Homo sapiens: one gene and its partners. The protein of the gene in region 2 purifies or fractionates together with the protein of the main gene of each other region. This does not show direct contact. Each region holds a gene or a part of one and is shown on either strand. Other genes may lie near its edges. The genes, in order: TSPAN15, TENM3, TRDN and CLEC4A.

Region 1 (8,259 bases), on a different chromosome or scaffold from region 2:
TGAGAAAATGAATGAATGAATAGGTTGTGATGATCACAGAACCCACCTCCTAGGGCTGTTTTGGACATAAAGTGAGATACACATATAAAGTGCTTATCACGGGGCTGGGCACATGGAGGAGCACAAGAATGCTGGCTGGCGTGATTTGTTCACAATTCCAGCCCCTGCAAAGGAAAGGGAGGGTGTCTTCTCTCCTTCCGAGAGAGGGTTGGGCCTCAGATGTCATCTAGGTCATTCTAAATGTCAGGGCTTGATGTGCAGGCAAGACGACCTCCCTCGGTTTAGCTGGTTCTCCAGGTAGCCTCAGTCCCAGCCATGCCCAGTGCCCACTGGGCATTAGTCAGCCAGTGTTTTTGGCCCTTCCAGGCCATAAACACAACCCCTATGGAGAGGGTCAGGCCTGGAGAGCAGGTGCACGGGCACATGATGGGAGTGAGTGCTTTCCATCTCATTGGTTCATTCATTTGTTCATTGAACAAATATTAACTGAGCACCTATTGCATGTCAATCCCAGTTCTAGTCACTTGAAATACAGAACAACAAGACAAAGTCCCTGCCTTCATGGAACTTACACTGTAGAAAGGGAGATAATGAACATAACAAATAGGTAAGCTGCATGGTACGTAGGGAGGTGACAAGAGTGACTTCACTGGGCCAGCTCTGGTGACCTCGGGGGATGAGTCTCTTAGCACACAGGCAACTGGCAGAGGCCTCTCTGGCATCAGAGCCCAGAACCCTTCTCCAGGCCCAGGGGGGACTCACCTCACCCTGCCAGGAGAGCCCCTCACCAAGGGGTGAGGGGATACGATGCATCCATAGTCTTTCCAAAAGTAAAGCCTGCCTGGGTTTACCTGCCTGACCATAGAATCGATATTCTGCAAGAGGCTCTGCTGAAGTTCACAGGCCCCAAGACCAGGGTCCAGTAGCCTCTTCCATCCTGCACGGGGCCACAGGACAGGAAGTCAGAAGGGGGACTCCTGGGCAGCCAGAAGATCACAGCAATGTTTGTGTGTGCATCCTCTCACCCTGAAAAGACTGAGCAGCTAATGGGGACAGGGAGAGGGGCCTTCGCGACAGGCCCCCAAGGGGTAGCCAACAACAAGGGAGGGGAGGTACGTGAAAATTGGTCCCAAGAGCTCAGCAGGCACAGCAGTCTGGAGCCATTTAATGTAGAAGCACGCTGCCCTCTGCACCAACATCTCCGAGGGATATATCCTGGTATAACCAGATTTTACAGCCCTATGTGAACTTCTATGGCTCAAATCCTCTATTGGAAGCTCATATAAGACATTTCTTTTAAAGCTGAGTGTTAGGGAAAAGGTTACTTTCCCTGAAGAACTGGTATGTTCTGCTGGTATGTTCTGCTGAACAGTAACAATGTAACAGACCATGTCTCCCTTTTCCTTTTGGTTGCCAGGAAACTCTAAGCCAGTGGTCTCCAACCTTTCTGGCACCAGAGACTGGTTTCAAGGAAAATAATTTTTCCACAGGATGGGGTGCGGGGGGGTGGGGGGTGATGGTGTCGGGATGAAACCATTCCACCTCAGATCATCAGGCATTAGTTTGATTCTCATAAGGAGCATGCACCCTAGGTCCCTTGCATGCACAGTTTACAATAGGGTTCACACTCCTATGCGACTCTAATGCTGCTGCTGATGTGACAGGAGGTGTAGCTCAGGTGGCAATGCTCCCTCAACCTCTGCCCACCTCCTGTTGTGCGACCTGGTTCCTAACAAGCCACTGACCGGTACTGGTTCATGGCCTGGAGGTAGGGGAGCCCTGCTCCAAGCCACCAGACACGAGGCTCAGCTCCTTTTCAGTGAGTCCATGAGGTCCTGAGGCTTAGATAGCAGGATTTTATATTTTTCTCCATCATCTAGGCCTCCTATCTGAGAATACAATTCCCACAGTCCTGATTTTTAATGCTATTTTAGTTTTTTACACTACATATTTCCCGTGTACTCATTCAAATCCCAGGTTGAATAGTACAGTGTAAAATAAATAGATCTGGACACAAATCAACCAGTTCTATGGAGGAAGCGAACGCCCTGTTTCACATTTAGAGAAAATCATCCAGGTGTGGTGGCACAGGGAGACTCAATGGTCATGTGTAACACAGGGTCAGATAACCCCGGCCAGGGGAAGGCTCCTCCCTACCTCAGTGCTCTCATTCAGATGCTGTCTTTAGATTCTACCCTATCTGCAGATGATGTCCGTGTTTACACCCCTTGCCTAGTCGTTCCCAGAACTCCAGACTCCTATATCCAACCGCATCTTTGACACCCCTGATGGGATGCTGAACAGGCTCTCAAACCCCCCACGTCCACGGTGAGCTCCTGGTCACCCAGCCTGCCTCCTTGCAGTCCTCCCCTCTCAGGCAGTGGCAGCCCCGTCTTTCCTGTGGCTCAGACCAAAACCTGGGTATCCTCCTTGATTTCTCTCTTTCATTCATCGCCCACATCTGCTATGCGAGCAAATCCTGTAGGCTTACTTGCAAAATACAGCCAGAATGTCACCACGGTTTGCCACTTCCACCACCACCACCACCACCCAGCTCCAAGCATCTGTCTTCCCCTCCCTGGTGCAGGGATGCTGTGGGGAGCCCTTAGGTGTCAGCCCCCTGCAATAACTACTTCATGTGATCATTAATTTTATATGTCAACATGACCAGGCCATGGGATACCCAGATATTTGGCCAGACATTATCCTGGGTGTCTCTGTGGGGGTGTTTCTGCATGAGGCTAATGTTTAAATCAGCAGACTAAGTAAAGCAGATGGCCCTGCCCAAGGGGGAGAGGTCTCATCTGATCAGGGAAGGCCTGAACAGAACAAAAGACTGCCCTCTCCTCAGTGACCATAAGAGAATTCTCCCTGCTTGGCTACCTTCGGGCTTGAACTGAAATGCTGGCTCTTCCTAGGTTTGAAGCCTGACCAGCCTTTGAATGGGAACTCCACCCTCAGCTCTCCTGGGTCTCCAGCCTGCCGACTCACCCTGCAGATCTTGGGACTTGCCCGCCTCCATAATTACACAAGCCAATTCCTTATCATCAATCAATCCCTCTCTTTCCTCTTGCTGTATTAGTCTGTTCTTGGCTGAACAGAGCCAGCAAGTCCCTTCTTGGGTGGACCACTGGACTCATGCAATGCCTGGTCAATGTGGGTGGGAGTGTGAAGGCCTGGCCCCCTCACCCCAGTAGGGGACAACTCTGAAGGGCTGTCCTCATAGATGTGGCTGAGGCCTCCAGCCGAACTGAGCTGAGGCTGCATCACTGCTCAACTCCCTTCATTGCCCAATCCCGCTTCTGGCTCCCACTTCCACAGGTGTTGATCCAAGAGCACCTTCCTGGACAAGATGACCTATGACCCCTGGATCACTGCATATCAGCCCCTAACTCTATCCCTGCATCTAGCATGTCCCTCACAACAGCCAGACTGATTCTTGTAAAACCAAGTCAGAGTGCCCCTCTTCCATGCAGCCCTGTATGGTCCATCACTCAAGGGTGCCCCACAGTCCTGCCTGTGGCCTTCGGGGTACCCATGACCTCCCTGACTCCACCTCCTACCATCCTCCGCTGTGCTCCCTCTGCTCCAGCCACTCTGTGCATTTCTCAAACGCCCTGGGGTGATTCCCACCTGGGGCCTTTGCACAGCTGTTCTTGCTGCCAGGAATGCCCCTCCCCCAGACACCTTCCTCACTTTCTTCAGAGCTTCACCCAGATCCCGCCTTTCTCAGTATCCCAAACTGCAATCCTCCATGCCCTACTTTCTTTTTCTACTCAGCATTTATGATCCTCTATCTTTTACTTATTTTGTTTGTCAGTTTTCTCCACTAGGATGTCACCTCCTTGCGGGCAGAGACTTTGTTTGCTACACCCCCAGAACCTGGAAATGTGTCTGGCATAGAGTAGGTTCTCAGCCAATATTTGTTGAATGAATGAATGAATGAATGAATACAAGTTTGGCTTCCACATCTCAGCTTAGGTATTCAGATGCTGCTGCCCTGGGTGATGAGGTTCAGGATCACCCCACGCAGGCCTCTCTGGAAACTCTGCTACTCCTCAGCACCCCACTTCCCAGAGAACTACCCTAAAATGGCAGCTAACACTTCCAAACAAAGCTTCCCTCCTGGCCCGGCCTTTTTTAGAGCTAGTGCACTTGGCACTGGCTCTCTGACTCATGGGCGAGGCCCCCACCCGCAGCTGCTCAGTTTACAGAATCCAGCAGTGGGCACAGAATGGTGGCAATGTCAGGAGAAAAACTTTCCATGACTATCTGGGCCATGAGTAATTGCAAAGCTCTCCACCTCGTTCCAATCCTGAAACAGTTTCTGGACACATTTGTCAAACACAAGGACTGATGAAGCCTTTCACTTAAGCGCTGACAACACAAGACATCATCCCAAATGACCAAGGTGACAGACCCGAGAGGATCGTGCTGGGGAGAGGAAGAGGATGGCATTTACGTCACCAGACCCCCTTCCAAGCACTCTGCTGCTGATGATCACCAGGACCTCAAGGCCAAAGACCAATGGAGATGCCCAAGGTGCAGGTCCTGCCTGCCTCCACTAATGCTGCAGAGCCAGCTACCCCCGCTAAGCTCCCCTGGCCTGGGCACCTCTCCCTCCTGCCCTCACCTGGCCTGCACAGTTCTCCAGAGTGTAGCTCAGGCAACAGCTGCCTGCACTTCATCCCAGCCCTGCCAACCTTGGGCAAGACACCCAGCCTTTGAGTGCCTCAATTTCCTCATCTGTAAAGTGGGTAAAATAACAGTACATACCTCACAGGGTTGTCGTGAATACTAAATGAGTAAATACCACCAAAGTGCCCAGAGCAGGCCTGCACAAGGTAGGTGCTCAATAGATTTTAACCAACACCACTAAGAAAGACATGGTCTCCCTACCCCCGACCCCCAGAAGCTCCACTTTCAGGAGCCCTTGAGAATCAGGAAAGCCTCCGCTCTGCCACCAACTCCTACTTCCCTGCCATCCACCCACACCACCCATCTTCAAGTTGGGAAGAGAGAAAAGAGAACATTTATACCACCTGGGGTCCCCGACAGCCCCCCAGTCCCCACAGGAGCAGTGTCTACCGTGTTCCTGATGCAGCAGGTGTAGGGCACCCCACAGGCCAGGGGTCCAGGGGCACTGCAGTCGTGGTACTGATTCTTGCTCCAATCTCGGTAGTCCTCCCCGCCACAGCACTTGAACTGAGGGAAGCAAGCAGGAAAGAGGAGCTGCCGTCATCGCCCAGGCCCTGCTCAGACGACAGGAAGGGGCCCTGTCAGGAGACGGAGGCAGTTTATTATGTGGGTCACCCTGGGGCAGGGAGAGGCTGTACACTTTCAAGTCAGAGCTGTCAAAGTGTGGCATGGCTGCCTAGAGGGTAGTGAACCCCCTGTCACTAGAGAGGTATGGAAGCCAAGGCTGGGCTGCCTCTTGGTGGGATATCAGGGTAGTGACTAGGCACTGGGAGGAAAGGTCCTTCCTTGACAACTGGCCTCCACTTTCTTCATCTTCGTGTCCCCAAATGCAGGTGCTAGGCTGGAAAAGATGGCCCTTAAAGTCCCAGAGACCAAGCATGATTCTGTGAAAGTCCCTGCACCTCAACCAACCTTCGCACCCACCCTAGGAGCCACCCCGTCCAGCTCAGCTGGCCCTGCCCTTAGCAAGGAGAGCACCCACACCTCACAACCTGCCTGGAGCTCTCCCCTTAGCCGAGCCCCTCCCTGCCTCCCCTCCCTGCTCCTGTAGGAAGTAGTTGGTAACCCTCCTGATGGCTGGTATGTGCCTGGCATTGTCCTGGGCACTGGAGAGACAGGGTGAGCAAAAGCAAGGCAGCCCTTGCTCAGGTGGAACACATTCCAGTGGAGAGACAGAGAGTGAGCACTGGATGGAAAGGTGCTGTGCAACCTGGAAATGGAGAAATAGGGGGAAAGTGGGGAGGGGCAGCTCTAGGTTGGCAGGTCATGAAAGGGCTCTTTGTAGAGAGGATATTTCATCTGAAACATGGAAACAGAAAGAAGCCAGACGACCCATGCAAAGGCCCCACGCAGAAACAAGCTTGTATTTCAGCAGCAGGTGCGGAGGCCAACAAGCCTGGAACAGAGAGAGTGCAGAGCATGAGGATGAAAGGGCGGCACAGGCTGGACCATGCAAAGCTTTGCCAGCCAGCTGAAGCAGGGAGCTGGGACTGGAGGGCTCAACCAGGGCTGCAGTACACGTCCTGGTAGCCAGACACCTTTCAGAGTCCCCACAGTGCCCCTTAAGCCACCAGGTTTTGGGACCTAGAACTGTCTTTCTGCAATGTAGTTCAAAGGGCATTTGTCTTGCAATGGAACAGACCCAAGGTCAAATCCTCAGACCACCACTCCCTGCTGTGCAACCTCAGGCAAGTTGGTCAGCCTCTCTGAGCCTCAGATGGTTGTCTGTAAAGCAAGAATAAGGATGGCAGCTCTGCACAGCTGAGCTGTGATTACATAGAGTGCCATGCATGAAGCACTCAGCACTGGACCTGGCACCAAGCAAGTGCCCATTCAGCATTAATCACCTCCTACCTCTATGCCAGGAGAAATGAAATCCCCAAGCCAGCTAAAGGCTGGTTCCAATAAAAACATCTCACTCCACCCGGAGCAGAAGTCAGCTCTCCCAGCCCAAGCTGGCAGGCACATCCCTGGCAGAAAAAGACCTTCCAGAGGCTGCACCTGTTGTGACTGAAGAGAAAGTCTGGGCCAAGGGAGCGGCCACAGCAAGTGGCCCTGCATGTGGGGAGAGGCTAGTCCCCACTGAGAGCTGGCACAAGGATCCAGGCCAGCTGAGGCCCCCAAGATTATGTCCCAGGAAGTGCTGTCCCGGCTGAGTGGGCCTGCAGCCCTCACTCTACTTGTCCTCACCCAGGAGAACATACCAATGATCCCCACAGCTGGCACTGTGGTCTCACCCTGTGCTTGGCACTGTTCTAAGCACGTCTCCTGAATTAAGTCAAGGTAATCCTCATGACGACGCCCCAAGAGCTCCTGTCATTATTCCCCTTATGTAGGTGAGGAAGCTGAGGCTCAGGACCAAGTGAAGTTGATGTACAAAAGCCACCCAGGACAGCAGCTGGCCCTACCACTGCCATTATTATTATTATTATTATTATTATTATTATTATTATTATTATTATTATTGCACCAACAGATTTGGGTGGACCTAGAGGGGAGAGATGGTGTCCCAAAAGGAATAGGATCATCATCACATTCAAGGAAGTGTCATGAAAGTAAGAGAGGCGTCTGGTTCACTGTCCCATATTTGGGGGAAACTGAAATTAGTGAAGAACTTTCTCCCAATCAGGGATGTCTTTAACTTGACAAGGAGTGAGTTGTCACTGAAGAGACTTGGCAGAGGGGGCTTTGGACTGGGGTAGGTTACTCCCCTTGAGGTTGCTCACACCTCAAGGAAGGAGGATCCTTGCCCATTGGAGGGTGGTGCCCTGGGACCCTGCAAGGTTGCTTGTAGCAACACCTGACTTTGTTTTATTTGGGGGTATGGGGCAGGAAGCCAGTGTAACTGGAGAGGAACAGAAGGGTGTGAAGGTTTTGGGTCAGGAATGTGGGCAGAGGACTGGCTGAATAGGTTGGGCCCTGGCTTCCCCATCCTTGGTGGGCCATCCATGCTCACTGTTGCCTCCCAATCTGGCCAGCCACCTGCTTTGGGAATGGATAAGTCACCTGGTCCCTCACCCCATCTTCTTGAGCAGGGGCCTGAATGGGGGGCTAAGAGCACGGGAGGCGCATCTCTACCCCAAAGCGCCTGGCTCACCTTTTTCTGAACAAAGTCCATGATGTTTTTGAAGTCCAGATCATCATAGTAGTTCTCAATTCCTCTTCGAATGTTGTCGTTCAGGAAGTCAATGGTCTATTCAAAAGGAGAAATTACAAAGGAAAAGAACCACACACTCCCGGAGTCCAACCCAAGGTTTTCCAGAAGCCTGGATGGGTAGAGAATGCCTTGTGCCAATGCAGCTCGCGCCCAGCCAGCATGGAGCCCCCTCCACTCCCCACCCTGGATGCCCGTGACCTCCCTACCCACACATCCTCCCCGTGCCTCCAGTGTTCATCTGATGCCTGAGTGCCTGTGCTATGTCCCAGCAGGAGTAATTCACTCCACTCCCTTTGCAGACCAGACAGCCCAGGCCCTGAGAGGCTGGGGCCGTGCTTGGGGACACACAGCTCTGATGCCGCCATGCCTGAGCTGAGACCTGGCTGTCCTGGTTCCAGGCCCAG
Region 2 (8,874 bases):
AATAATGAAATGTATTTCATATATGCTTGCTTAAAAGCCTAAAGGCAATTATAAGTGATGTATTTCAGATCAACTTTCAAAACTGCATATTTGAAGTCCAAATTATCTGAAAATCCCCCATTAAATAAAGTTAAATAATATTTTCTATGTCACTGACAAACAGCAATGGCACTATTGTACTTCATGGCTTAGGAAACACAGAAGAGTTTGCGTGGGGAGCTTTGCAGGGAAAGGGTGAGGGTGCATTTGCTAGAGTTTGGGAAGTTATTTTTAAGACTTCTCACCAATGTTCACAGTTCTTTATTTTTCCCAATAAAATTTTGTTAAGTATTGAAAATAATTCTGCTTTTACTCATATCACAGAATTATAAAATCCTAGAATTAGGTATAATCTGAGAGGTTGCCTGAGCCATCCTTGGTCCAGTTGCTACTGCGATTTACTTATTTGTCATTTCAGTAAACACTGACTGAGCATCCACCCGCAGGTACTTGCCAGAGATATAACATGGACAGAAAACAAAGTCACTGGCCTGAAAAATCTTAAAATCTAGTAAATTAAAGCTGTCCTTGCCTAACAACACTTTGTGACTAGAAACTAACAGCGCAGCTTTGTGAAGCTGCTCGTTCCATTTTTGGATGGATGAGGTCAAGGGTTAAAGTGCTTCCTTCTAAGGCGGGTGAGTTCTGCCTTAGCCATGGCCCCTTTCAATGGTCTGAGGGCCACTCTATGGAACCATCATCTGTGTAATGCTTCCAGTAGATCACATCTCAAATAATCAGACATTTATCATGGCTCTCTCTCCAGTCTTCTCTTCGTAAGACAACCAACCCCCAGTTCCGACTGCGCTCTTCATAGGGTTTTTCTTCCAAACTCCTCACCATTCTGGTATCCACCTCTATATGTCAATTTCTTGCTGCAGCACCTCAGGACTGATCAGCACACAGAGAAACACATTGCCTTCCCTTTCCAAAATCACATCTAACTCGTTTCTCTTTGCTCATTAGATTCTAGCTCGACTCATATTTTTCTGTCCTTCAAAAACACCATTTCTGGTGTTCTTCGCATCTTTACATTTGCCCATCTCTGCGTCCTCCCACAGCTGCCCACACGGCTGGTTCCGTCTCATCCTGAGAGCTTCGATGTGGGCATCGCCTCCGCAGAGAGGCATCCCTCGTGATCCACCTCAATCAACTTCCCCTCCACTCCCAGTCACTACCTCATCTCTCGTTTTAGTCTCAGTTTAACAGCGATGATTATCGGAACTTATCTTCTTTGTTTAGTTATTTACTGGCGGCTTCCTCCCTAGAAAGTGAGTTCATCCCTGCACTGCTGTCGTCTGCAATAATGCAAGGCAAAGCGAAGGACGAGAGGGAGGGAACGCCCCCGCCCTGGAACCTACATGGCATGATTCATATCTCTCTATTTCTTATGAATACAGTCAAGACGGCACAAGCTTTTCTGGCAGACATAGCCCATTTGTTTAAGGTCAATAAAACCGTGTCTTTGTCACATACGGACGAGACACATTCTTACGTGATGGGATCGTGCTGCAGAATTTTAGAAGGAGGGCTGGTTTGCTGGATTCAAACTACTACTCCGGCTCTATTTTTAGTCTCTTATCCAACACCACCTCCTTCCTGTCAACAATGGCTTTGATACCCACACCATCTATATCCTAGAAAAGGAAGACATTTCTACCTCCTGTGCTCTTTCAGAGCGGGGCCTGCTTCGTGTCCACTGCTTATCTAAAATGTTATTCCTGAGGGGCGGGGGTGGGGGCTCATAGCGAATCTCATTCATAAGCGCTGCTTTGTTTTTCTCTCTGTGTTGCTTCCATGACTTCTTTTTAAAAAATTCTTTCTTCCCCTATGCCTTGGGGCTGCTGGCAGTGGTGGTAAATCCTGCTGATGACCCGGGGTTAGATAATTAGTGGTACCTAGATTGCATTCATTTTATCAATGAGACAACTTCTAGGAGTTTCATTTCAGGCCACTTAGGAAAACACATAGCCAGAAGGTGCCACCCTCTGCCATAGCGGTTGCTGCCTCTGTTTGTTCAACATAAGAGACAAGTGAGCTCTTACGCTATTTCCCGTGACTTGCAGAGCCAGGGAGTGCTACCAGAAAAGGAGTCACTGTTAACCACAGAGTGAGGATCCAGCAGGAGCGCCCGCCAATAAAATGTTACATCGGTATCAAATATAAATCAGAAACAGCTTTCCCTAAATTCCTATATTTATTAACTAACACAAATCTGTAAAATCACTGAAGGCAGTTATTGTTCTACTGGTTTTATTGCTCATCAACGGAAAAGTTAAGAAACCAGCTCAGAGTCCTAAAGCAAGTTGCAGCATTGACACAACAGTAGCCTCTTAATCCCTTTCTCTCTCCTGTGGCTGGCCCTGGAAGAGAGGAAGTTTTCAGTCCTATGGCCGTGTCACATGTCAATATCCTGGGATAACTGGTTCCAAAAGATTCTGGCAGGGACTACGGTCATCACATTAATCTAAAGAATGGAAGTAACATGTGGACTGCCTCAGTTCAAACAGACCACAGTTGCTAAACAGAGACCCAAACTGGGCCACGACGCTGCCTTCATTTAGGAGACGAGACAGAATTTAAAGGAAAGCACTGATTGCTGGAAAAGCAACAGAGAATTAAAACAAAATTTGCAATCTCAATTGGAATTTCTGATTTACTCTTGGGGCCACCTGAGAAGCAATGTGTGACACAAATCAACAACAACAGCAAAGAAATGAAGATCAGATAGATTCCTTTCTACTTGCTCTTTCACTTTTCTAAATGATGCCGGAGGATGCTACATCACATGAGACAGAGCAAAGTTGCTGGAGCCACTCTCTCAAGAGGACTCTGGGGCTGGAAACAATTGTGTCTTGTTCCCTGACACAGTCTTGGGAAACAAAGCCCATGGATTAAGTAAACTCACCCAATGATCCCATCCTGGGCAAAAAGAGAATGATTCCAGCATGCAGACCCTCAGTATTCCCATAGCAAGTGACCTCTGCCCATTAAACAAACAATAGCACAGCCTAACACTCGATTGTTTTGAATGTTTCTGAAGCCTTTGCTTCATTCCCAAAACACTAGAAAGTATCACTGCAGAGGATTAAAAGCATTCATTGATTATGGAATGTAGACATTACAATAAAAAGAGACTCTAGAAATTTAATTTTGTGAAGAAATGCAAGATTCTCATTAATTTAATTAGAACATAAATAACATCAAGCATAGCTAATAAAGTTCAACATGATTTGATTTGCATGAGGCTCTATTAATGTAAGAAGTAAAGTGATATTTGCAAACTCTCAGAAAGCTGGACAGTTGGAATGGTTTCCTAAACAGCTATCTATTAGGCTACACAAAACTTGGTTTTTCTTTCCATATGTTACACATCATGAGAATTACACAAATCTATGACAGGGACAAAAGTGTTCCTGGACCACTGGAGGGAAGAGCCTGGGAACTGAGGATTCCAGGAGACCCGTCTTCCTCTTCATATTCTCCTCTTGTCCATCAGTTTAGGAGCCAGGCTAAAGCTGAGGCATCTTAAAATTTCGGAATGGGAAGGAAAAATAACATTAGCTACCCTGGAGGCTGTGGAAATAAATGCATCTGAATGCAAAGGACAGTGACTTGCAGGCTGCCTGAGATCCAATAAAAGCCTCATCAGAAGTAGCTGTCAATCACTCTAACATGTATGGCTGGTTCCAATAATTCTACCAGTCAAGATAATAAAATTTCAGAACACTAAATCAGCTCACAGCAAACCAGTTAAAAATATTTTGTGATCGCCGTGACCACCATGGTGGTCTAATACCCTGGGTTATATGTTTTAATAGAAAACACAAATGAGGCCGGGCGCGGTGGCTCACGCCTGTAATCCCAGCACTTTGGGAGGCCGAGGCGGGCGGATCACGAGGTCAGGAGATCGAGACCATCCCGGCTAAAATGGTGAAACCCCGTCTCTACTAAAAATACAAAAAATTAGCCGGGCGTGGTGGCGGGCGCCTGTAGTCCCAGCTACTCGGGAGGCTGAGGCAGGAGAATGGCGTGAACCCGGGAGGCGGAGCTTGCAGTGAGCCGAGGTCACGCCACTGCACTCCAGCCTGGGCGACAGAGCGAGATTCCGTCTCAAAAAAAAAAAAAAAAAAAAAAAAAGAAAACACAAATGATTCCATTCTTGGAAGAGTCTATCAGTTAGCACTTTGAGAAGACAGTCAGCCCTGAGTGCCCTGCCTCTCTTTCATTTCCTTTCCTAAGTACTGGAACCTCAGTCACAAAAGAAAACCAATATTTAAGTCAACAGACATACATTTAAAATTATTTCGCTGATGTGACTATGAATTTTACTTATAAAACAAGGACGTGCTGAATAGTTCACAGTATTTTTGGTGTGTTCATTTCAAGCATCTTGAACTGCTCTTTTCCTCAGCTTCCGTGTCCCAACACTGCCCAGATTTGCCCTCTCCATCTTCAACTACTTTTTTCCAGTCTCCTTTTTAGACTTGTCTGCCCTCCCCAGTTTCCAATACCTCGATACTCTCTTCTCATCTTCTCCTCCTTTTCTTCTAGGCTGTCTCATCCGTGCCCTCAATTCCCACCTCTCTACAGATGACTCAGCAACTTACCTTTAGTTTATCCTTAGTTCAGACTTCTCCTCCAAGCTCCAGACCCATCTAAAAGCCTTCATGGCCAGGTGCGATGGCTCATGCCTGTAATCACAGCACTTTGAGAGGCCGAGGTGGGCGGATCACTTGAGGTCAGGAAATCATGACCAGCCTGGCCAACATGGTGAAACCCCGCCTCTACTAAAAATACAAAAATTATCTGGGCGTGGTGGTGCATGCCTGTAATCCCAGCTACTCAGGAGGCTGAGGCAGGGGAATTGCTTGAACCCGGGAGGTGGAAGTCTCAATGCGCCAAGATCACCCAACTGCACTCCAGCCTGAGCGACAAGAGCGAAACTCTGTCTCAAATAAATAAATAAATAAAAGCCTATGTGACATTTACCCTTAAGACATTCTAAACACATCTCCAATACATCTAAAGTTGAATTCATTGTAGCCTCTCTACCACATAGTCGCCCTGGAATGCTTCTAATCTCAGTGAATGACATCACCGCCCAATTATGCAAGTCAGAAACCTAGTGATTATCTTGCTTACCTCTCTCTTAGCCTCCGCTTCTAATACATTATCAACTCTTGTCAATTTTATTTCCATCTCTGATAAGCACTACCCACATACAGGCTACCATCATCTCTCATCTGAACCACCACGGTAGGAAGATCTAGGGTACAGTTCAGAGAAAGCAATCAGGCAGGAAAACCAGTAAGTTTTATTGTTTGAGACAGGGCCTCAGTCTGTCACCCAGGCTGGAGTGCACTGGCGCAATCTCAGCTCAATGCAACCTCGACTTCCCAGGCTCAGGTGATTCTCCCACCTCAGTCTCCCAGGTAGCTGGAACCACAGGCAAGTGCCACCACATCGGGTTAATTTTTGTATTTTTTGTAGAGACGGGTTTTCACCATGTTGCCCAGGCTGGTCTCAAACTCCTGGGCTCAAGCAATTCACCCACCTCAGCCTCCCAAAGGGCTGGGGTTATAAGCATGAGCCACCGTGCTGGGCCACCAAGAAGTTTTAAGAAGGCAAATTGACTGGATTAAGAAAATGTGGCACATATACACCATGGAATACTATGCAGTCATAAAAAAGGATGAGTTCATGTCCTTTGTAGGGATGTGGATGAAGCTGGAAACCATCATTCTCAGCAAACTATTGCAAGGAAAAAAAAACAAACACCGCATGTTCTCACTCATAGGTGGGAACTGAACAATGAGAACACTTGGACACAGGAAGGGGAACATTACACACCGGGGCCTGTCATGGGGTGGGGGAAGTGGGGAGGGATAGCATTAGGAGATATACCTAATGTAAATGACGAGTTATTGGGTGCAGCACACCAACATGGCACATGTATATATATGTAACAAACCTGCACCTTGTGCACATGTATATATATGTAACAAACCTGCACCTTGTGCACATGTACCCTAGAACTTAAAGTAAAATAAAAAAAAAAAAAGAGAGAGGAAAAAAAAAAAGAAGGCAAATTGGTGGAAAAGGCATGTGGCTGACAGTGGAGAAAACAGATGAGAGCAAAACTGAAAAGGGTCCACTGGCTTCAGGAATAAAGAGGTTATTTGTGACCACGGAGAGTCATTTCAGTGGAGAAGCGTTTTTAAAAGAACGGTCAAGCCTTGTGCATTTTACCTGTCTGGAAAAAGAAAGGGAAAAGGAAAGCCGGGCCCAGTGGCTCATGCCTGTAATCCCAGCACTTTGGGAGGCCGAGGCAGGTGGATCACGAGGTCAGGAGTTCAAGACCAGCCTGACCAACATGGGAAAACCCGTCTCTACTAAAAATACAAAAATTAGCTGGGCATGGTGGCACATGCCTGTAGTCCCAGCTACTCAGGAGGCTGAGGCAGGAGGCCTGAACCTGAGAGGCGGAGGTTGCAGTGAGCCAAGATCGCAGCATAGCAACAGAGCAACAGAGTAAGACTCCGCCTCACAAAAAAAAAAAAAAAAAGAAAGAAAAAAGAAAGGGAAAAGGAAGCGACTGAAGATAGGAGAATGTGGAAAAAAATTAATGGAGCCAAGGATCCAGAGGAAGCAGAGGGGAATGCCACACAGGGCCCAGGTAGAGGGGGCACCACTGAACAGAAGAAGGGATGAAGGCATGTCTTTTTTGTTAGAGAAAAACAGAGAACATGTGTGTTGACCTCTCATTATTGAATGAATCAGAAGAAAGCATTGTCAGAAATGGAGGTGAAAACTGTTGTTACAAGAGAACAAAGTATTGGGATAGTAATTGATTAAATGAACATTTATTAAGTGCCCAGAAGCTGAGCTCTGGGAAGCCAATGGTAAACCAGAGAGAAGCTATAACGATTCACATGAAAATCCCAACTCTGCAAGGAATGAAATTTCAGCACGAGTGTTAAACTGTCAAGAATGGGAGCAGATTAAGGGGACCATGTGGAAAAAAATCTTCAAGCCCGATGACAAAAGCCTCAAAGATGCAAGCAGGCATCCTTGAGGCTGTAGGTGGTGATGAGAAGCGGGCTTCAGAGAAGGAGGAAATACTGAGTGAAGGTCAGTGGAGCGGGAAAGAGAGGCAGTGAAAATGCCATCCTGCCCAGGGGCCTCAGAGGCCAGATCTGAGGGGACATAGCAGGCTGGTCTCAAAGCCCTGTAATACAGTAATCCTATGACAAACAGGCAAAACAGCAGCCTCTGGAGCTGCATTCCATCCCAGGCCCTTACTGTCTCCCTGCTCCAGGCTCTCTGGGTGGACAGAAGACCTCCCAGGCTGTGTCCATGGGGAATGGCACCATGAGGAACACCCTGCTAGATCCTGCCTTTCCCTGCTCTCGTGGGCTGCAGGGCCGGGACTCGCAGGGAGAATTGCCAGGCTCTGATGGTAATCACCCACATGCTCAAAGTGCACGCAAGATAACTTGAAGAAAAGTCAGGCATTTTCACTCTGAGATCAGCATGCTGATGACACATGGTCTACATCTCCCCTTTTATCTCTAATCCTGACACCACAGTTTCACAACGTATTCAGCATCTGAGGAGCCTAACAGGGGACTGGGATCAAAGTGAGCCAGAAAAAGATTAATCCCGATAAGACAGAGGTTATGATGATAGCCGGGAGAAAATATTTAAAGAATGTGGGGAGCGCTCTTCTGTGTCTCTCGTAGGAACGTGTCTCTCTCCTACTTGCTGGGTCACTTCTGGCATTCCGTTGATCTCAGTGGACGTCCATGACAAGACAAGCCCAACACAAGCAGGCCTATTTATGGTTCCCAAACTCAGAGTCAGTGACAGACTAAATAGGCTCTGACTCTCGCTCTGAAATATCCGGGTGGCTGTGGCTAACCAGGGTCTTCATAAATCATGAGTTTAATTAAGGCAACAGCCAATATCCACTTTTTCTCCCCATAGAAGTTCCCCCACTGCAGTCATCAGCAAAGCAAAAAATGCTGCTTAACTTTCCCCCAGTTTCACTACTCTACAACTGTTATTACAGTATTGTTTTTTTCCCAGCCATTTTAATTAATGTTGTTTTGTGAAATTTCTTCCTGAATCTATTTCTCTGAGAAGTTTAATTTTAGAAAACCAAAGTGTCAAATGATCTAGCATTAATTACCCTATTTTTACACTTTGAAAATAGCAAACTACTAATCAATTTTTGTTTCTTCTTTATAATCAGATAGGTGTAATGATTTTTTTCCAGTAAAGCTTTTTTTGCGATTATTTGGGATACAGTATTACTATAAGCAACAAATATTAGATATTATTGTCCTTCCTTCTTATTTCATTTGAAGTATCCATAGTGGTATTTTCTCCCTACCCTGTCTCCGCCCCTATTTGGTTTGAAATCTTTTCTAACTAGACCTCTTTCAAGAAGGAAACTCTATAAAACTAAATCATCTTTTTCCTGCAAGATAACCTGAACTCTTGAAGAATCCACTTATTTGTATGACAATGTCAAAGTTTTTGCAGCATGCTAAATGTTAGACTGTAGTATTTTAGTAAGTTTCTTGCCAGCTTTTAGAAACAAAATATATTTTACTAATAATGGAAAGAATTCAATAAATTAAGCAATGAAAGGAGCAGAAGCAATAGTTTCAATATTGTAAGGGACTATAAGCAAGATTTTTGGCCGGGCGCGGTGGCTCATGCCTGTAATCCCAGTACTTTTGGGAGGGTGAGGCAGGCAGATCATTTGAGGTCAATAATTCAAGACCAGCCTGGCCAACATGGTGAAACCTCATCTTTACTAAAAAT
Region 3 (8,259 bases), on a different chromosome or scaffold from region 2:
TAAATTACTGGGATCAACAACATTTTCCGGAGTGCAAAGGTTCTCATTGTCTAGTTTTCTAGAGCCTAGATGTGTTACCTATTTGTTTTAGAAATGAGATGTCTCTTTGATGACATACACATAAATTATAATTATATATTTTTGAAAGGCTTTCACAAAAATAGTTAAGAAAATAAAAATATAGCTGTCTTTAAGCAATTAGCTTCATTTATTCTAATATAAATGAGCTCCTTCCTTAACAATACTGTCTTCTTGGAAAAGTTTTCCCAAACATGAACATAGTTCTGTCAGTTTTTAAATCTGCAAAAGGCATAGTACAAGCAATCAAGTTACTCATGCTTAGTTCAGATGTTAGTAAAAAATACCTTTTTATACTCTGGGCAACAATTAAAGATACAAGACAAGGTAGATATATTCCTTTAACTCAAAATCCTTCCCCATTGTTTTGAATATTAATTCCAAGATTATCTATCTCCATCAATAGTTCTTTGGAGTGGCTAAACCAAGTTCATGTATAAGGGAGAAAATTTTAAAGTTTTGGAAAACAAAGTATAAATATTTGAAATGTGATGATTTTAATATGAATTGTGTTCACTACTAAGAAAAGAAAGATATTTTCATTGTCGTGGGTCTTTTCTTCTAAGTTTACCAAGAATAAAATAAGATGATTCACTGCTTCACTTCAAGACATTATTAAAGATTTTAGCATTCCTTATATGGAGAGATATTAGCACATATTTTACATTTCAACTGACTTCATTTGCAATAGGCCATGCAGTGACTGAAAGTAAAATTAAGACCTTAATGCCAGTTATTACCGCTTTTTATTGGTTTTATTCTAGATCTACACATGCATTATGCAATTTTTAAAAAATGAAAATACAGTTAGGTACATAAAAAGCCCACAATCTTAGAAACAAAGACTATTAAAACAGACAAGTACAAGAATTGCTTGGAATACCTGGTTTTAAATCCCCATGGACAAATATGTCAATCATATATCGACAGAATGCATACTGATCTGACAGAGTAGAAAGAAAAAGAGCAATGAAAAAATGTCATCAACACTTCATTTTTCTACAGAGAAATAATTTAACAAAGCAAACAAAATAGCACAATTCTATTTTGGTTACTACAATATTTTCTGTAAAAAAAATAATTTGCACTTATATGAAAATACAGAAGGAAAGAAAGACGACAAATATAATGCTTCATTTCTTCCATACAAAAATAACCTCAAAAATTGAAAAGGACTAGTTCAGGGTAATCTTATAGTGGTTGTTTTCAAAATAAAAACCTATTTTGTCAAATAATTGATTACAAAAGTCATCATATTAAAGCAATTTTTCCCATTTGTCATTTTATAAACTTTCAATAATGAAACAGAAGTTTCACAAGAGGAAATTGTTTCCAACTTGGAGTGTTTTATCAAATACTCAGTTCCAGCCCTTCTGCTAATTGTCTCTATGGAGCAGCAGAATGTCTTTTCCAAAAGACTATCAGGAGAACTAACCTCTTTGCAACCTGTTAGGTGGCCTCTGAATAAAAATGCTCTTTAATTGGGAGAGTAAATCAAGAACAGAGTAACAGAACCAAATGATATTGTTGTTAAACTAATCAAATGAGTAATCTTCTTAAGATCATCTTATGATCTTGACTAGTTTATGGCCTATGGTGAAAGTAAACAAACAAACAAAAAAAACATAGTATGTAAACATCATTTTGGGCAGACCTGGTCTTCAGGAGTTGGTTTTTTTTCTATTCCCTCTAGATTAAAGACATTGCACTTAACTTTAAATCCTCACAGAACTTTAGATTCTCCTGAGGTCAATCCAACTCAAAGCTCAATTGATGAATCTTTACCGTATCTGCTTTAAAGCATACATATTATGAAATAATTTACATTTCAATATTCCTGAAATATGCATTTTATTAATCCACCAAATCCGAAGGCAGCTTTAGGACCAAGAGAGTTTATTGAATTTAAGCAACATGTTACATTCTTAATTGCTCCAAATTATGCATATCAAACATATGAAATAACAAAGCTTGTTACTAAACAGATACACCTCTAAGGATTTTTGTAAATCTCGTTCTTTTTAGAGTAGTAACAGCATTTTTAGAGGAATCCATTTTATTATGAAATTCTGTTAGGTCTTTAAAAAATAAATATAGTTATTGAAGAAGATATAAAAATATAATCTTTTTCATTAATACCTAAATAAGGGCAGGCCAAAACTCATAAAGTTCCAAAAATTTAGATGTATTTTAGTTGTTGAAATTGGAGCACATTTTCCCACAGGAGAGGTAGGGAATGGGAAGGAGGCTAGTCCTCAGGTCATTCCATGCATTGATTTGCCCTTTGATGTACTGGCAGTAATAGCTGGAGTTTCTGATCCCAGGACCTGGGAACCCTATGATTGGGAAAGACATAAGGTTAAGGTAGAAGGTATTTTCTCTTTTCTAGACATGAGATTGTTTTCCTGAACAAAACTGTAGAACTGGCAATTTGACTCTAAGACAAAGCAAGATGAAAAAGTACATTTCCCTTAAATGAAAAGTTTGAAGTCAGACCAGTGTGGACTTTCTGAAATCGGCAGTATGTTCCCTTTATTTCAGTACCTTAAGTGACTGTACTCTTTTTAGATTTGTTCTGCCTATACTCTAGGAGTAGTTCTCAAAGGGCAACTTAAACACGAGAAAGAGAGAGGAGTTGTCAAAATACAGATTTTTGGGCTCCATCATCCAAAAAAAATTAAAATGCCATGGATCTGGACCCTAGGAATATGCATTTTATACAAACTCCTTAGATGAATCTAATTAGACTGCATTTACAGAATCACTGATCTAAAACCTTTCATTCCTTTTTCCCAAAATAATTACTCTTAGAGGCACTATAGACTCCCATGACAGCAAATAAGAGTGTTTGTTTTTATGTATGTTGGAAGTTTAGAATGCAGGGAGTATTTTTAATATAACATCCCCTCCAAATGAAATATTATCTGCCCCATGTTGTGATGGGATAGTTATATACATAACATGTTGAAGAGTGTACTGAATTAATTAAAATCTTCACGCTTCAGAGAGTCTTCTTTAGCTGAATGCTGACAATGTAATGAAACTTTTCAGCTTGTATGTTGAAATATTATCAAAGTACAGTCAGCCCTCCATTTCCCTGGGTTCCACATTGGAGCATTCAACAAACCACACGCCTGTAATCCCAGAACTTTCGGAGGCTGAGGCGGGAGGATCATTTGAGGTCAGGAGTTCAAGGCCAGCCTAGCCAGCATAGTGAAACCCCATCTCTACTAAAACTACAAAAATTAGCTGGGCATGGTGGAGGGCACCTGTAATCCCAGCTACTCCGGAGGCTGAGGCAGGAGAACTGCTTGAACCCGGGAGGCAGAGGTTGCAGTGAGCTGAGATTGTGCCACTGCACTCCAGCCTGGGCAACATAGTGAGATTCTGGCTCAAAAAAAAAAAAAAAAATATATATATATATATATATATATAGTTACAGCTACCATGGTTGGGTCTGTACTGAACATATACAGACTTTTTTTCCTTATCATTATTTACTAAACAATACAGTATAACCAGTATTTACAAAGCATTTATTAAATACATTAGGTAGTATTGGTAATCTAGAGATGATTTAATGTATACAAGAGGATGTGTATAGGTTATATGCAAATATTAGTCCCTTTTATATAAAAGACTTGAACATCTGTGGATTTTGGTACCTGCAGGGAATCCTGAAACCTATCCCCCACAGATACTGTGGGACAACTGTACCTTACTTATATTTCTTATATTTCCTAGATCCAAAAATCATTCATTTAATTAATACACCAACAGCCCAATGAACTTCTAATTGCAAAAAGGAAATTTCTTATGAATTCAGAGGATGTTTTTTAACTTAGAAAATTATTTGTTACAACACTTAGAAGGTTTTGTTATATGTAAATAGTGCTGTGATCTTGTATTCTAATGGCACCAATATATCAATAGGAATATGAGAAAGATGTTTTTATTCCTATCAAAGCTGATAGGAATTTTCAAATATTTTAAGTTAGGATGCCCATTTCCACCTGTCCTTGGCAATGACCTTAACAACGTATAAGAATTCTAGGTAGGTATGTGTTGGGAAGTCTCCAGTTTATCTGCTTAACCTATCTAAGAATACAGAAAAACCAAGCCTTCCTGATTTTGAAAGATTTGTGTTCTAAAAATGTTTCTTTAAACCCAACTTAAATATTATAGCAGAAAATTTTTCACAAAGAAAATCTAAATTGTCCTGCCATTCTAACTTTCATAGTTCTGAGATAATAATTTATATAATGTTAATTTGCTCATCATTGTAAGTACTTTTTCCCCAAATAAACATCCTTCTTGGAATAACACATGCTGTCCATTTCTCTCCTTCTTGATTCTCAGGAAGCAGTGATAGATGTCATTCAAATGATACCTAGTTGGTGTTCCCTGTGGAATAGTAACAAAGGGAAAATACATTCTGGGTGCAGAATGTCAAGAACAACAAAAAATTTTTAAGAAACCTGTAATGAGGATGGGGCACATGTGGTCCAGTACTCTATAACAGATTCACATTAGCTATACTTTCTCTGCCTGCCACAAATATCAAATAGTTGTTTTAAAAGAAAGAATGAGTGAAGGAGCAAAGTGTGTGGCAGCTGGAAAATTCGTTTCTCCTTCCCCACAGACCTCCTAGAGGTCATCAGAAAACTAGGGAGCAATGTCTGACTATGCCAACTCTTCCTACTCTACAAACAGATTTAGATGGGTTCATAAAAACTAGATTATTTGATGGGTGTGTGTGTGTGTCTGTGTGTGTGTGTGTGTTTATGGTAGGTGTGTATATACATATGCATCTTATCCCTAATGCTTTAAGCAGAAAAAGAGATGTATTATTTCCATATACAATATTGAGAGTAACTACATTGAATATATTCATATGTATACTATGTAATTAAATAATTACTAATAAATATGTGTCCCATGTGAAAATCTGTTTCCAAGTGAGTAAAGGACCTATGAGCCTTATTTCTTTAAAAAGAAGTATTTAGAAATCTATATGAAAAGAATGCCTCAAACATATTAGGTCTAACTTAACTATGTGAATGAGTATTCTCTTGCCCAAAAAGCTAACTCAACAGTTAGCTTAGTTGAGCTAACTCAACTAAGTCATCATATAAAATTTTCAAAACCAAAGCCTCAGAAATTAAAAAAAACTATATCTTTATCTTGCTTAGCTAAAATCATAATGTAATTAGTTTTCTTTAATTTAAAAATGCTCTTAATTAAATCTTTGCTTAGTAACAAAAAATGAAAAATAAAATGACATATTTATATGTCTGATCTGCCATTAGAGGTTAAGTTTTGAATACTTACCTAATGATACATTTATATAATTGATGGCAATTGTTCTCAATACTGAGACTTGCTTTAGCAATTGCAATTGTTTAGCTGATAAAATCACATTTGTGCTTTTGTTTTAAACTCTAAATGATATTTGAATGTCCTTTTAATAGATAAATAACTCTTTGTGTAGAAATAAAAATAGTAGACTGAAAAGGGATATGGTAATATAATGCTGTCTTTAATAAATCTGATTACTGATAGAAATGAAATACAATATTTGTGGCCTGGAAAATAAACATTATTTTAAAGTGTTCCGGTGATGAGTTTTTATCAATAAAATGTGGCTCCCAAATCCCCAAAGATATGAAAAATTAACATCAAAAAATACATTCACATTCCTAGTTGTTAGATAAGTATTTTGACATTTCCAAATATAACTGGCATCAATTTTTACACTCTGTATTTATGGTTAAAAATTAGAATGTACTTTGTAGGTTTTCACTGATTTCATGTGATTATTTTTCTTTTTGAACAGCAATCTAAAGTGTAAAGGATTTCAGGATCTAAGTAATCATACCAGTGAATCCAAAGATTATTTCTGCTGTTTTTTTACCACAGTAAAATATTATATTCAACGTATTTTCTCTTTACTTACTTCATCCTTTTTGTCTACCAAAATATTTCATTAATGACATAATTTTGATGGAAGTAATAATTAACTTTTAAATTTTTTTCATGGTGATATAATCACCTTGAAAATTGGAAAAAGTTTTAGAGCTCCTAAGTTTTAATATGACTTATATCTTAAAATAATAAATTAAAATTATCTAAATTTAAAGGTTTGTAGATCACTAAAAAAAGAAAAAATCTTTCCTTTTTAAAATATATATTTTTAAAATATGTATCTTTTGTCATATAAATCAGAGTTGACAAATACTACATGTGAATCAAAGTTTACAAATGCAAATTCAAGAGAAAAAAGATGAAAATACAGTACGAGTGCATTGCAAATTTCATTTCTTGTGCCTTATGAGGAAAAATTAATTTCAGTTTCATCCTCCAAATAGCCTGCTCTGTAATAAAATTGTAAGATTTCTTAAACTAAAATCTAATAGAAACCAATTCTTTGATACAGTCCTTAGATAACATTAGTCAAAAGTGCTACAAAGTAAAGAAAAATTTGGTTTTGCAATGTCTCCAAGAAACACCAATTACAGGAATAGTCTCTACATGTTAGATCCCCGTATTCTGTAAAGGAGTCTCAGGATTATACAGCAAACTGGAGTCAGGAATGGACTTAGGAAAAGAAACATTCAATAAGGGCCAGAGATGTGGTACGATAAGACCCTTAGTTGCCCTCCTAAACCTTCAGCTCTGTATATTCACATAGCAACCTTCCATAAAATAAAAATTCAGGTTTATATGCCACCTCCATTGAAGTGATATATTTTTGCAAAGTGGGGATGTAAGTTTGACATCACTCTTGCTGAAGAATGGCGAAATATGTCACATTCAGAGCTTTCTAAAGTTAGAAATTTAGTCAATGGAAACTGAAAAAGAAACTTGAGAACTGTCTTCTCTATAACATCTTGCCTATTAAATAAATTTAATAATTGGATGTATATTCTAAATGATGTGCTCTTGCCAATGCAACAGTAATGTATGGATAGTTTTTATGATATTTACTCTATATGATTCCAACATGTACCCCTTCACAAACTCCTTAGGAATTGCTGTCATTTTGGGGGACCACTTTCCTCCAAAGAGTATGACACATACAATCTTTATTCCACCTCTTAATAGACATTCCATATCTCAAAAATTCAACATTTATCCCCAATCTTTATATGATTTCGGATGCTACCTCCAAACCCCTTTTAAAAATACTTCAAAATGCCCCTTTAGATCTGTGAACACATTTTAGTATTTTTATAAATAAATATTAATTCCCAATTTACTGTATTTCTTTTCTGATATATTTACTTTAATGTCTTTTACCCCCATTTGAAGTCTGATTTTGGTCTTTTTCAACTTTTAATTTCACTGCATGTGCTTCTTGCCCAATATTCTCTTAGAACCTCCGGCAGCCTCCTGCTCTGAATGTTTACCTTTCTGTTCATGCTTTGACACAGCTGCTTTCTCTTTGTCCTCCTTTTCTTTGGGTTTTGATGGTGTTTTCTGTACTTCTTTTACTTTTGCAGCTGTTTGCTTCACTTTCTCCTGTTTTCCACCTTTCACTTCCTTTTTAGTCTTTTCTTCACTCTTTTCTGCAGTCTTAGCTTTCTTCTGTTCTGTATAAAGTTAAAAGATGTTGAAATACTTTTGTTTATTTACAAACATAATGTTTCATCTGTACTATGTCATTAAGGAAAATTGGAAAAGAAAGAGGGAAGAAAGGTAAGTCACAAGTGTTTATGTTAAGAACAGTATTTTTCAGGAAAACAATGAAAAATACTGTTCTTAACATAAACACTTGTGACTTACCAGAGTTTTATACAGTTTATGAAGTGCTATATTAGATAGACTACTAAAAGTGTTATGGCTTTTAATTTGTACATGAAAACACTATTTTTTAAGGCAATAGTAACTTAGCATGTCAACAAGGAGGCATTTGTAGCATGCAGGGGATGGATGTACAGGAATTTCTGTGAAAGACAATTTCCATACCAAACAGCCCAGTGAAGTAGTCTCCTTTTATAAGCACATGATCATTTTGCTTGATAACTGAAAGATCTTAAGGGTCATTCAAGAAACTGAAATGCCAACAAAGTCTTTTTTAAAGACAACAATTAGTAATGCAAGTGTAAAATTATCGCATTGGTGTTGACTAACAGAAATAAAACAATGAAATCCATTAGAAGATAACTGAAAGACCTATAG
Region 4 (7,505 bases), on a different chromosome or scaffold from region 2:
TTCAAGGTGCACTGATTTCATATTGTTCAAACACACACGTTTTACAATCAATTTGTACAATAGTGGTCCTGAGGTGACGTACATTCTCAGCTTACGAAGATAACGTGATTAAGAGGTTAAAGTAAAGACAGACATAAGAAATTATAAAAGTATTAATTTGGGGAACTGATAAATGTCCATGAAATCTTCACAATCTATGTTCAGAGATTGCAGTAAAGGCAGGCATAAGAAATTATAAAAGTATTAATTTGGGGAACTGATAAATGTCCATGAAATCTTCACAATTTATGTTCTGCCTTGGCTCCAGCCAGTCCCTCCGTTTGGGGTCCCTAACTTCCCGCAACACAAATCTTGTTATGAAGACGATTGACTGATCACGATGACACTCAGTAACCCTTCAGAACTAGATGAACTACAACTCACATCTGTAATCCCAGCACTTTGGGAGGCCAAGGCAGGCAGATCACCTGAGGGCAGGAGTTTGAGACCAGCCTGGCCAACATGCTGAAACCCTATCTCTACTGAAAATACAAAAATTAGCCGGGTATGGTGGCACATGCCTGTAATCCCAGCTACTCAGGAGTCTGAGGCAGGAGAATCACTTGAACCCGGGAGGCAGAGGTTGCAGCGAGCTGAGATCGTGCCACTGCACTCCAGCCTGGGTGACAGAGCAAGACTCTATCTCAAAAAACAAACAAAAAAATTTTCTAATGATTGCAGATAAATACAATATGCTTCTTTTTCACAGTACCCTATGATTTTTAGACTAGGCTCTAATATTCAGAATTCATGAAATTATCTATGGTAAACCTAGTTATTAATATTATGTAATTCAAGGATAACATTGTTGTCTTAAACCTAATATAATATTGTAACTTGCTTACATCAATATCTGGATTTGGGTCAAAATACTTAATCATCTTTCCATTGGAAGTAATTGGGAGTAGAGAACTTTTTGTTGGTGGATGTACATACAGTGTCAGATGAAGAACAACACTATCTTAATTTCCCAAGATAGTACATTTGCTGGTGCTATTTTTATACAGTGAAGCAACAGCTTTGAAGCAAAATAAGAAATAAAATATTCAACTTCATTTAAAAAAAGAAAACTGGGAAAGAAAAACAGAAATAGACAAATAGGATTGCATCAAAATAAAAAGCTTCTGCACGGCAGTGGAAACAATCAAAAAATGAAAGAGTAGCCTACAGAATGGGAGAAAATATTTGCAAACTATATATCTGACAAGGGGTTAATATCCAAAATATGTAAGACAGGGGTGTCCAATCCTTTAGCTTCTCTGGGCCACATTGGAAGAATTGTCTTGGGCCACACATAAAGTACACTAACATTAACGACAGCTAATGAGCTAAAAAATCTCATAACATTTTAAGGAAGTTTACAAATTTGTGTTGGGCTGCATTCAAAGCCATCCTGGGCCACATGTGGCCTGCAGGCTACAGGTTGGACAAGCTTGATGTAAGAAATTTGTACAACTCAACAGCAACAAAAAAAACAAATAATTCAATTTACAAATGGGCAAAGAAACTGAATAGACATTTTTCCAAAGAAAACATACAAATGGCCAACAGGTACATGAAAATATGTTCAACATGACTAATCATTAGGGAAATTCAAATCAAAACTGCAATGAGATACCACCCACACAGCTGTTAGAAGAGCTATTATTAAAAAGACAAAAACTGACAAGTATTGGTAAGGATATAGATAAAAGGAACCTTTGTGCTCTGTTGGTGGGGATATAAATTAGTACAGCTATTATGGAAAACAGTATGGAAGTTCCTCAAAAGACTAAAAATAAAACTATCTGGCGGGGCGTGGTGGCTCACGCCTGTAATCCCAGCACTTTGGGAGACAGAGGCAGGTGGATCATGAGGTCAAGAGATCGAGACCATCCTGGCCAACATGCTGAAACCCCGTCTCTACTAAAAATACAAAAATTGGCTGGGCATGGTGGCGTTCACCTGTATCCCAGCTACTTGAGAGGCTGAGGCAGGAGAATCGCTTGAACCCAGGAGGCAGAGGTTGCAGTGAGCCAAGATCATGCCATTTTACTCCAGCCTGCCGACAGAATGAGACTCCATCTCTAAATAAATAAATAAATAAATATAAATAAAACTATCATATGATCCAGCAATCCTACTTCTGGGTATATACCAAAAGAAAATGAAATCATTATCTAGAACAGATATCTGCACTTCCATGCTTATTGGATCATTATTCACAATAGTGAAGACACGGAAACAACTTAAGTATTGGCCAATGGATGAAAGGATAAAGAAAATGTACTATGTATATAAAATGGAGTAGTATTCAGCCATAAAAAAAGGAAATCCTGTCATTTGCACAACATGGATGAATCTGGAGGGCATTATACTAAGTGAAATATAATAAGTCATACAGAGAATGACAAATACTGTACAATTCTACTTATATGTAGAATCTTAAAAAGTCAATCCATAGAAACAGAGGGTAAAATGATGGTTGTGAGGGAATGGAGGGCAGTGGAGAAAATCAGGCAATGTTGGTCAAAGGGTACAAATTTTCAGTTCTAAGATGACGAAGTTCTAGAGATCTAATGTGCTGGATGGTGACTATAGTTAATAATGATGCATTGCACACTTGAAATTTTTTGGGGAGTAGATCTTGCTTTGTGTTTGTTGATACCAATGGACAGAATGGAGTAGATCTTAAACGTTCTCACTACACACAAGATTGTTAACTATGTAAGATAATGGGTGTGGGTTAAGTAACTTGATTACGGTAATCATTTTACAATATATATGTATGTCAAATCACCACAGTGTAAACCTTAAATATATACAATTTTATTTGTCAGTGTATATATATATATTATAATATATATATAAAATATAATATATATATATGTCAGTATATATATACAATTATATATCAGTATAGTAGGGATGAAGAGAAAACCAGACAGGAGGAGACACCACATCATATAATTTTATTGGTAAATAATTCTTTAGCAACCAGATAAAAATTAAGAGAGACTCATGTTCTCTCCATGTGTGCACAATGGGGGCCTCCAGTACAGGCTCTGGCACATGAAAAAATGCTCAATAAATGCTCACTTTATGAAAAAGTGAATCAGTCAATGTACAGACCAATTCTCTCATAAGTAGAATAGTTGACAGACCACCTAAATTCTATGGACCTCCCTTACACATGAATAAGAAGAGCTTATTATCTATCCCTACAATGACAGATACCAATCCAACCACCTGTTCATGGAGAATGTTCAGTTCATAAGTGGATCTTCATCATCTCACAAACTGACCTTTGAGGACCAAGACAATTAACATCATTCCAGCCCCATCTTTTGGGTGATTTACGAAAATTTAGCACAACGCAGCGCTCATTGGGATCACTGGGCTCACGTGGATGCCAGAATCTGAAAGCGACAAAAAGGATGAGGGCATTTCTTCAAACAGAGCTTTGAAAAGGGTTAGAGACAGGGGTGAGGAGCGAGGGATGAATTTCATGGAACATAGGGTCAGATATGCCCAAATCCACCTTTCTGCTACTCATCATGCAGCTTCTCCTCCATCTGCATTTCCGGCATTTCCTTTGAAAACTGTGCCTATGTCACTCAATGTTCTCTACCTTACTGCTTTGAATATCCTCACCATAGATTTTCTAGAGGTTCTCTTCTATTTGTCCATCCTTATGTCCTGTTCCTATGGGTCCATCAACCTATAGGGTGTCCTTGTATGATGAAAAGATTTTACCCTGGTCCCACTTATCAATAGAGTTTTTTCCTTTTTTTAATGCACTGTTTTTAAAGTCTAGAGAACTAGTAAAATCTTTTGAATCTTCTACTTATCCTTGTTATTGGACAAGTAATTTAACTTCCCTGATTCTCAGTTTTTCTATCTAAAAAATAAGGACTAGAGTAATATCACTATTTATTTCATACAGTGGATATGAAGATCGAAGGTGGTAATCCAGTAAAGTATGTATTTTATGTAATTTATGTAATATATGTAAAGTATGTAATTTATGCAATTAAAGAATTACATAAATATGAGATATAAGATTATCAGAATTTAGCATTTTTGCTTCATAAGAAGCATTACATCTTCAGCCTGACTGGGTGTGGTGGCACATACTTGTCATCCTAGCAACTCAGAAGACTTGGGTGGGAGGATCAGTTGAGCCCAGGAATTCAAGGCTGCAGTGAGCCATGATTGCACCACTGCACTCCAGCCTGGTTGACAGAGTAAGACCCTGTCTCAAAAAAGAAAAAAAAAGCATTATTAAATCTTAATAATTGGTTATGATCTTAATCAACATGGGTTTTCACTATGTAGAGACAGGTAAATATACGGGTTAAAAGCACAGTAAGATCCACCTGATTTGAGAACAATTGTTGACACCACTGGGTGACCTTAGCTGAATTATCTACACTCTCCAAGCTCAATTTCCTCATATCTACAGTGGGAAAAATAACAATGTGTGCCTCATAGGGTTCTTGCGCAGATTAAATGAGATAATGAAATTATTTAACCTAGTACCCAAGAGCTAAAAGAAGAGTGAGCTATTTTACTTTTATAGCTGATAGCTAGAATACCCTAAGCTCTCTGCATGATCCAGGACCCAAGATTCTTTTATCTCATTCTATACTCACGTGGAACTTTCATTGTATGGTGTCTGATCAACCCATTGCCAATGTCGCTGACCTTCTGGATCTGAGAGCCCCACAAAATAAGCAGATTCTTCTTGCAGATTCTGGAAGATGAAATCCTGAGGGGGGAAAAGAAGGAGTCACAGCCTTTACAGTATTCAGCTTAAACTGAATTCTTAATACCTTAGAGAAACAAGAAGAAAAGGAGAGGATCCAGCAACAGCTGCATTAGAGCTCTACGTAGGAATGGGGATCTCTGGCTGAGCAGGGCAGAATCAAAGACATCGCTTGTAAGCATGATGTTCAGTACATACGGAAGGAATTTTTTTTTTTTTTTTTTTTTGAGATGGAGTCTCACTTTCTGTCCCAGGCTGGAGTGCAGTGGTGCAATCTTGGCTCACTGCACCTCTGCCTCCCAGGCTTAAGCGATTCTCATGCCTCAGCCTCCCCAGTAGCTGGGACTACAGGTGTGTGCCACCATGCCTGGCTAATTTTTGTATTTTTAGTAGAGGCTGGGTTTCACCATTTTGGCCAAGCTGGTCTTGAACTCCCGGCCTCAAGTGATCCGCCCGCCTTGGCCTCCCAAAGTGCTGGGATTACAGGCATGAGCTAGCATGCCCAGCCAGTATGGAAGCAATTTCTATGATCAGAATGAATTCTCATCTCAGGTTTACTTCCCCTCTTTTCTTCACTAAGGGATTACATTCTTCAAAGTTGTACATGAGAAAATTTTGGCAGATTCAGTCATTTTCCTTTCATAACTTCAGGGATTCTTTATTTTCATTCCTGAGTGTTGATTGTGATTCATCATGAGTTAACTTTATTTCTTTTCTCTATTCAACTTAATACCTCTTCTTTGTTAAGTAGTTAATCATGTATAAAACATTTACATATTGAAATAACAAATTGATATTTCAGACTGAAACATTTTCATCCTTCCATTCAACCCTCATATATTTTTAATGTCACAATTTCTTCCGGGGAGGTTAGTTTTACTGAAGCAGGAAGGAGGTATGGAATATAAAGGCTTAGGAGCCCTTTCTACCTATTTTATTGAAAGCCTTCTGCCACAGCGCAAATATCCCAAAGTAACAAAAACCTCCTTCTTAGCCAAGAGAGATATACAAAGATCAGGCAGGGCTCACAGCCCCATTATCTATTAGAAAGTACCTGCTCTTCTTGAGTGTTTATCACCAGCAGGTGAGCCTCCATTCTAGCACAGTCCTTCTCACTGTCTTGCCAAGATGCTGATTCAGTAGAAATAAAGTAGCAGTTGGAACTAAATGACTTCCAATTCTTTGGGCAACAGCTCCAGGCTGTCTCTGTATTGGGAAGAGGGGCACATACGTGCAATATAAATAATCACTCTTAAAAGTGTGTGTATTATTAAAATTAAGAGCCAAGAGAGAGCACATGGAAGCTGGAACTCCCCTCCACACTCAGATGCAACCAGGAGCCCCTGCCCCTCAGGTGTCAAGGAAGCCAAGTCTACCTCAATCAGGCAGTAATGAGGCAGGGCCCCTTTTCTCCTGCTGAAGTGCCATCTGAAAAGCCCAGCTATTACGAAAACATGTTTAAATAAGATCCAGACTCTGAGAATATAATGCAAAAATATCCAGAGTTCAATAGAAAATAAGTCATTATGCTAAGAACCAGTAAGTTTTCAAATTTAATAAAATATAATAATCAATAGATGCCTACAATCAAGACAACAAAAATGGGGCCGGGCACGGTGGCTCACATCTGTAATCCCAGCACTTTGGGAGGCTGAGGCAGAAGAATCGCTTGATCCCAGAAGTTCAAGACCAGCCTGGGCAACACAGCGAGAACCTGTCTCAAAAAAAAAAAAAAAAAAAAAAGATAATAAAATTGTTAGAATTATCTGACAAAGATTTAAAAGCAGCCATGATTAAAAAAAAACAAAAAACAAAAACGCTTCAACAAGAAGATACAGACATGCTTGAAACAAATGAAAAACTAGAAAGTTTCAGCAAAGAACTAGAAGATATAAAGAAAAACCAAGATTTCACCATGCTTGGGGCGCCTTCCTTCCCCATGGCGGGACACCTGGCTTCGGATTTCGCCTTCTCACCCCCTCCAGGCGGTGGAGGTGATGGGCCAGGGGGGCCGGAGCCGGGCTGGGTTGATCCTCGGACCTGGCTAAGCTTCCAAGGCCCTCCTGGAGGGCCAGGAATCGGGCCGGGGTTTGGGCCAGGCTCTGAGGAGTGGGGGATTCCCCCATGTCCCCCGCCGTATGAGTTCTGCGGGGGGATGGCGTACTGTGGGCCTCAGACTGGAGTGGGGCTAGTGCCCCAAGACGGCTTGGAGACCTCTCAGCCTGAGGGCGAAGCAGGAGTCGGGGTGGAGAGCAACTCCGATGGGGCCTCCCCGGAGCCCTGCACCGTCCCCTCTGGTGCCGTGAAGCTGGAGAAGGAGAAGCTGGAGCAAAACCCGGAGGAGTCCCAGGACATCAAAGCTCTGCAGAAAGAACTCGAGCAATTTGCCAAGCTCCTGAAGCAGAAGAGGATCACCCTGGGATATACACAGGCCGATGTGGCTCACCCTGGGGGTTCTATTTGGGAAGGTGTTCAGCCAAACGACCATCTGCCGCTTTGAGGCTCTGCAGCTTAGCTTCAAGAACATGTGTGAGCTGCGGCCCTTGCTGCAGAAGTGGGTGGAGGAAGCTGACAACAATGAAAATCTTCAGGAGATATGCAAAGCAGAAACCCTCGTGCAGGCCCGAAAGAGAAAGCGAACCAGTATCGAGAACCAAGTGAGAGGCAACCTGGAGAATTTGTTCCTGCGGTGCCCGAAACCCACACTGCAGCAGATCAG

Evidence for each region.
Region 1: the proteins of TENM3 (region 2) and TSPAN15 purify together in Homo sapiens (co-immunoprecipitation; one large-scale study listed by IntAct). This does not show direct contact.
Region 3: the proteins of TENM3 (region 2) and TRDN purify together in Homo sapiens (co-immunoprecipitation; one large-scale study listed by IntAct). This does not show direct contact.
Region 4: the proteins of TENM3 (region 2) and CLEC4A purify together in Homo sapiens (co-immunoprecipitation; one large-scale study listed by IntAct). This does not show direct contact.

The regions. Positions count from the first base shown.
Region 1 is NC_000010.11:69,495,226-69,503,484, reverse strand, and holds part of TSPAN15 (tetraspanin-15), read right to left. Parts: exon of another isoform or gene 8,235-8,259; intron 7,892-8,234; coding exon 7,796-7,891; intron 5,277-7,795; coding exon of another isoform or gene 5,206-5,276; coding exon 5,089-5,205; intron 1-5,088. UniProt on the Homo sapiens protein: Part of TspanC8 subgroup, composed of 6 members that interact with the transmembrane metalloprotease ADAM10.
Region 2 is NC_000004.12:182,239,252-182,248,125, reverse strand, and holds the start of TENM3 (teneurin-3), read right to left. Parts: upstream 4,725-8,874; 5' UTR 4,650-4,724; intron 1-4,649.
Region 3 is NC_000006.12:123,496,232-123,504,490, forward strand, and holds part of TRDN (triadin), read right to left. Parts: intron 7,671-8,259; coding exon 7,488-7,670; coding exon of another isoform or gene 7,420-7,487; exon of another isoform or gene 5,597-7,419; intron 1,022-5,596; coding exon 962-1,021; intron 1-961. UniProt on the Homo sapiens protein: Contributes to the regulation of lumenal Ca2+ release via the sarcoplasmic reticulum calcium release channels RYR1 and RYR2, a key step in triggering skeletal and heart muscle contraction.
Region 4 is NC_000012.12:8,134,072-8,141,576, reverse strand, and holds the end of CLEC4A (C-type lectin domain family 4 member A), read right to left. Parts: exon of another isoform or gene 6,725-7,505; intron 5,993-6,724; coding exon 5,841-5,992; intron 4,790-5,840; coding exon 4,674-4,789; intron 3,438-4,673; coding exon 3,290-3,437; 3' UTR 2,970-3,289; downstream 1-2,969. UniProt on the Homo sapiens protein: C-type lectin receptor that binds carbohydrates mannose and fucose but also weakly interacts with N-acetylglucosamine (GlcNAc) in a Ca(2+)-dependent manner. Involved in regulating immune reactivity.